Regions from separate parts of the Homo sapiens genome. Here region 2 is reported to be linked to region 1. Evidence: microRNA targets listed by miRTarBase, many of them from high-throughput screens and not tested one by one. Region 1 holds a microRNA gene; the other region holds the end of a gene's coding sequence.
The links. The annotated mature microRNA hsa-miR-1295b-3p reads AAUAGGCCACGGAUCUGGGCAA and lies in region 1 at 897-918, opposite strand. An mRNA with a match to its seed (bases 2 to 7 or 8) in the 3' UTR can be bound and repressed. Matches are read on the target gene's strand: a 7mer-m8 pairs with bases 2 to 8, a 7mer-A1 pairs with bases 2 to 7 and ends in A, and an 8mer does both.

Region 1 (3,153 bases):
GGAGCTTTAAAAAACACACTGAGCATTAGGTCCCACTCTCAGAGAATTTGATTTAATTGACAGCAAGTTTTAAAAGCTCTTCAGGTAATTTTAAGGTGCAGCCAAGTTTGTCAGTCACAATGTAGAGTTCAACAAATGGAAGCTCATGACCAACAGGCTACAGTTACTGTGGAAGAGCTTACCATAGGACACATCTGTTACAGCTGTGAGCTCTGCAAAGCAAGCTGTTGAATGAATAAAAGGCATTAAGTTAAAAAAAAATACTGGTTGGAGCATGATTAGGAAGAGGTGGAGCCTTGGTTTAGCTCTGTTGAAGCATCAAGGTACTTATATCTCAAGTTTCATGATGAAAGATCAGATTGTAGATCTCTATGTGTAGTTGCTAGTTCATAGTGGAAAGTACTGAGCACTAGAAACTTCTAATTAGAGCTCATCTAACTGAAAGTTGTCAGGGCTCCCAGAACATGAAATTTTAGTATAATATTGGAATATTACAATCACGTCAAAAGCCAATGTGGCTGCAGTTTCATTATTGACAAATAATTAATTGGCAGATTAGTTGCCATGTTCATTTCAGAAAGCAGCGTGTTCTTTAAATAGGACATGAGTTTTCTGCTGCTCACATGGTTTGTTGACTCTGCTATAGGCATGTGGGATGGGGAAGTGCAAAAATTTGTAGCTTTCTGTGAGTTGGGTAAGTTTAAAGAGATGATAATCAGCATAAAGAGAGAAGAAACATTAAAGAAAAAAATTGATACATAGTCCAGAAAAAAATCAGAGGAAGTTAAAAAAGGGAGGTATTCCCAGAAGAAAGCCACTATTCATAAAACTTCATGCAAAAATTCATATGATTTACTGATTTATTGTTTGGGGAGCTCCTGAGAAAAGAGGACATTTTGCCCAGATCCGTGGCCTATTCAGAAATGTGGCCTGTGATTAGGCCGCAGATCTGGGTGAAATGTCCTCCTTCTGTGACCAAAGAAGGTGAGGGAAATACATCATCGTGGCTCTAGATCAGGGTTAGAAGTCAGAACTAGAAGGGCATAGAAAGTGCTGTAGTAAACAGCTCCAACAGTTTCAACTATATGCACCCTTAGTGTTAGCTAAGTTTTAACCAATGTTTGGATCTCTCTGAAATTTAAAAAAAGTTAAGATAATGTAAAATGATGATGTTAGAAACCAAAGGGAAGGCAAATACAAAATTAGAACAATTTTATAACAATCTTATAATGTGAATACTAAGCCTATTGCTGCAGACTTCTAGTGATCTGAGAAACACTGCTGTTTGCTCCATCATTTGCAATCTATAAGCCCCCTCACAGTAGTAAAATAGGAAACGCTGAAAAACCAAAGGTATTAGTTTCTTGTGGCTGCTGTAATAAATTACCACAAAGTTAATGGCTTAAAATAATAGCAATTGATTCACAGTTCTAGAAGTCAGCAGTCGGGAATCACTATCAGTAGGCTGAAAACGAAGTGTGACAGTACCATGTTCATTTTCAGAGGCTCCAGGAGAGAATCCATTCCTTGCCGCTTCTGGCTTCTGGTGGATGCTGGCATTTCTTATTTTTTTCAGTGGCAAGACCCCTCTTGTACGCCTTCACTCATGGCTCCTCTGGCCATCATCAAAGATAGAGCATAGCATCTTCAAATTTCTCTCTTTCTGTTGAGGTCATCACATCACCTTCTCTCTTCTCTTTGTGTTAAATCTCCCTCTGCCTCTCTCTTTTAACGATGCATTCATTATAGCGTTTGGGGCTCACCCACATAATGCAGAAAAATCTCTCCATCTTAAGATTTTTAACTTAATTATATTTGCAAATACCCTTTTCTCTTGTAAGTAAGATAACATTTACAGGTTCCAGGAATTTGGATGTGATATCTTTGAGGAGGGGCATTGTTAAATTGTTCAGCCTATTACAGGCCATCCTCTGGTTCCCAAGGATTCACATCCATCCCATCTGCAAAATACATTAACCCAATCCCAACATCCTCAAAGTCTCAACCCATAGCAGCATGAAATCAAGTCTCAACTCTCATTTATATATTTTCAATTCAAAAGTCCAAAATCTCATCATCATATAAATTATCTAAATCAGGTATAAATGAGACTCTGGATATGGACCAGGATGAGGCAAAATTTCTATCTGTGAACCTGTGAAACTAGAAAACAAGTTATCTTCTTCCAAAATACAATGGTGGGACAAGCATGGGTAACCGTTATCGACATTCCCATTTAACCGGGGAGGAAAAAGGAGGAAAGAAAAGAATCACTAATCCCAAGCAATTTTGAAATCCAGTAGGACAAATTCCTTCAGGCTTGAAGGCTTTGGCTCAGGCCTCTGCCCTCAGGGCCTGAGGCTCTACCCTCTGGGCTATCCTTTCTTTTTCTTGAAGGGTAGCACATGTTGCAGTTCAGTTTTATCAACCTATGCTGCCAGGTTCAAATTTTAAAGTCTTCCTCGAGCAGCAAGAAAAGACAAATTAGCTGTCTTTGGCTGTGTTCCTCTCAATAGCCATATCAGCAGTGCGTTCTATCTTCAGCAACGTCTTGCAAACTAAATTTGAGTATGAGGCTTTGGTTAAGATCACTGTGTATAAGATATGGCTGGCCAGGAGTGGTGGCTCATGCCTATAATTCCAGCACTTTGGGAGGCCGAGGCGGGTGTATCACCTGATGTCAGGAGTTCGAGACCAGCCTGGCCAACATGGCGAAACCCCATCTCTACTAAAAATACAAAAATTAGCGGGGCGTGATGGCACACACCTGTAATCCCAACTATTCGGGAGGCTGAGGCAGGAGAATCCCTTGATCCCAGGAGGTGGAGGTTGTAGTGAGCTCAGATTGTGCCATTGCACTCCAGCCTGGGCAACAAGAGAGAAACTCTGTCTAAAAAAAAAGAAGAAGAAAAAAGAAAAAAAAAAAAAAAAAAAAGAAAGACATGGTCAGCTCGATAGGCCACTTGGTGAAATGGCAACCAGCAATTTACAAAGGAGTTAAGAATAGACTAGAGAGAAAGGCAAGCTTGAATTGGGATCTTTTCTCCACCATTATCAGCTGTATGATTTTTTTTCTTTTCTTTTAAAGCTTCAAATTCATTTGTAAAAGGAAAAAAAATATACCTAGCTTATAGGATTACTATAAATATTTAA
Region 2 (3,093 bases), not on the chromosome of region 1:
CCTCAGCCTCCCAAGTAGCTGGGACTACAGGCGCCCGCCACCACATCCAGCTGATTTTTTGTATTTTTAGTAGAGATGGGGTTTCACCATGTTAGCCAGGATGGTCTTGATCTACTGAACTCGTGATCCACCGACCTCGTGATCCACCTGCCTTGGCCTCCCAAAGTGCTGGGATTACAGGTGTGAGCCACCATGCCCAGCCTTTTTTTTTTTTTTTTTTTTTTAAAGAATGAGTTTTGCTCTTGTTGTCCAGGCTGGAGTGCAATGTCTCCACCTCAGCTCACCGCAACCTCCACCTCCCAGGTTCAAGCGATTCTCCTGCTTCAGCCTCCCGAGTAGCTGGGATTACAGGCACCTGCCACCACACCTGACTAATTTTTGTAGTTTTAGTAGAGGCAGGGTTTCACCATGTTGGCCAGGCTGGTCTTGAACTCCTGACCTCAGGTGATCTGCCCGCTTCAGCCCTCCAAAGTGCTGAGATTACAGGGATGAGCCACCATGCCCAGCCATCCCCACATCTTGAGGCCAAAATCCCAGGCATGTGGCTGGGCTCAGTGGCTCACACCTGTAATCCCAGCACTTTGGGAGGCCAAGGTGGGTGGATCATTTGAGGTCAGGAGTTCAAGACCAGCATGGCAACATGGTGAAACCCCGCTTTTACTAAAAATACAAAAATTAGCCAGGTGTGATGGCGGGCACCTATTATCCCAGCTACTCGGGAGGCTGAGGCAGGAGAATTGCTTGAACCCGGGAGGTGGAGGTTGCAGGGAGCCAAGATCGGGCCACTGCACTCCAGCCTGGGCAAGAGTGAGACTCGGTCTCAAACAAAAACAAAAACAAAAAACAAAATCCCAGGCATAAATCAGACAAGCCATGAGGGTTCATTCACAATGATTTATTGGCTGCCCCTCCACACCGAGCTGAGGTGGACAAGCAAGAGGATGAAACCTCCCCAGGACCCACCTAACTCCCAGGCATCACAGGAACAAGGCAATTTTCCAACAGCCTGGCAACGTCTGGGACTCCAACGAGGTCTGGGCCCAAACCTCACCTGAGACTGGCCACGCCCGTCCCATGCACCCACCCCTCTCAGACATCCTGGTGACCTAGGCTGAGATGAGGGTGACCAGGAGGGACCCTTCAGCTATAATATCATCCACCTCGCTCACACTGAAGCAGGCTCCTGGCCCGCCCAGCAGCAGCACAAGGCTGACCACAGAGCAGGTAAGCATCTGTATGTTTGTTCAATGGCTGAATGAGTGACAGTGGACTCCAGCCTGAGGGAGACCTGATACATCCAGGTCCCAACTGTGCACACTCAGAGCCCCTTGATAGAGCTGGATCGTGGAACCCCAACCAGCTGTTTCCATTTCTTTGGTTTAGGGGGAGCCTGAGACGAACAGATCACAAGCCTTTCACGCCATCTGATCTCTCAAGCCTGCCCTAGACGTGTCTACTGAGGGCTTCCTTTGTGCCAGGGAACTTGTGCGTTTCTCTGATCCACACACACGAATGATCTAAAATGCAAAGCCATTTGCAATCATAATTTCCAACTGTCCTGGTCTCCCCTCCTGACTGCACGAGGCTAGGAGCATGTGAGCCTTTTTTAACTGCAGCTTCGCATCGGCCCTTCCGTACAGAGGGGGGCCAAGGGTCTCCACTATACAGATGGGGAGCGCCAAGCTCAGAGGAGGAAGGCAACTTGTCCAGGGACGCCCAGCAAGAGTCGGGACTTTCTGGCCACGTGAAAATGTCTAGCCACTGAGGAGCGTGGTAAGAAGAGACTTTGAAATGGCAGCACCTGGCTCACAGGTACTTAGAAAATGTCCATCAAATGAATGGATCTCAACATGGCTTGAAGTTCTTCAGGAGTCAATATGCAATTTTTTTTTTTTTTTTTGAGACAGGGTCTTGCTGGAGACAGGTCTTATTGGCCAGGCTGGAGTGCAGTGGGAAGATCTCAGCTCACTGCAACCTCCACCTCCTGGATTCATGTGATTCTCCTGCCTCAGCCTCCCGAGTAGCTGGGATTAAAGGCGTGCACCACCACGTCTGGCTAATTTTTGTATTTTTGGTAGAGATGGGGTTTCACCATGTTGGCCAAGCTGGTCTTGAACTCCTGACCTCAGGTGATCTGCCCGCCTCGGCCTCCCAAAGTGCTAGGATTATAGGCATGAGCCACTGTGCCTGGTCAAGATGCAATTTTAAAGAAGGAAAAATACAACTAAGAATATCATGCCAACCAGTGACATTCTTGACTGGAGCTGCTGCCAGGATTCTGTGAACCCCTCCAAAAGCTGTGACTCTATGGGGTCCTGGCAGAGAGAAAGAGGGAACCCCGATTTCTACAAAAGTTCTTCATCCTCATCCCCATATCTCAACCCCCACATCAGCCCTGGAGGGTGAGCCAATGACCCTGATTTGCAGATGGGGAAGTCAAGGCCAGGAAAGGATAGATCTGAGCGCAGGAAGCCTCCCAGCTCAGAGGGTCCTGGGTCCGGGTCCTCTCCCCGGTGCCCCTTGGGCCACCCCCTAATCCGCCTTCTTGGCCTTCTTCTTCCTGGAGCCCTCGCTCAACTCCTCCTTGGACTTGGCGGGCATGGCCGAATGCTGAGCTCCTGGCCCACCACCGCTGTGGGACCCACCATGGTTGTCGTGGTGATGGTCACCCCCGCAGGCCGAACCAAACAGCACGGGGCAGATGTAGCCCTCCAGGGCATCAAAGGGGGAGCTGTGTGAGTGGGTGGCTGTCAGAAACACCTGAGGTGGGGTGGCCAGGGAGACAGCAAGAGAGACAGAGGGAGACCAAGGTAGAAAGCAAAGGAGTGGAGGGCAGGGTGGGGAGAAGAGGGGAGAGAATGTCATCAAAGTCAAGGTTGGAGGTAGCCCAGACCCAGCCCTCTGGCTGCATGCACCCCCAGGATGATGGGCGACCATCTCAGGTTTCCCAGGATGCCAGATTTCAAGTGTTGACCCCTGGAAAGTTCCAAGCACACTGAGACTGCTGGTCACCCATCCCCCAGAATTCCCCACGACACCTGGGCTCAGAGAAAAGCTGTGCTAAGTGCAGGTCTGAAGGTCTGTGTCCTCCCA

Region 2: miRTarBase lists TMEM38A as a target of hsa-miR-1295b-3p. Seed matches in the 3' UTR shown: 7mer-A1 at 2,167-2,173.

What each region holds. Positions count from the first base shown.
Region 1 is chr1:171,099,542-171,102,694 of GRCh38, reverse strand. MIR1295B (microRNA 1295b) reads right to left here and starts at 956; the gene lies at 897-956. All of the region lies in intron 2 of FMO3 (flavin containing dimethylaniline monoxygenase 3), which reads right to left. MIR1295A (microRNA 1295a) reads left to right here and starts at 889; the gene lies at 889-967.
Region 2 is chr19:16,687,811-16,690,903 of GRCh38, reverse strand. TMEM38A (transmembrane protein 38A) reads right to left here. Exons shown (of 6, transcript NM_024074.4): 6 at 881-2,760. The coding sequence ends at 2,533. Among named protein-coding and RNA genes, the nearest start is that of TMEM38A, 28 kb to the right of the region's middle.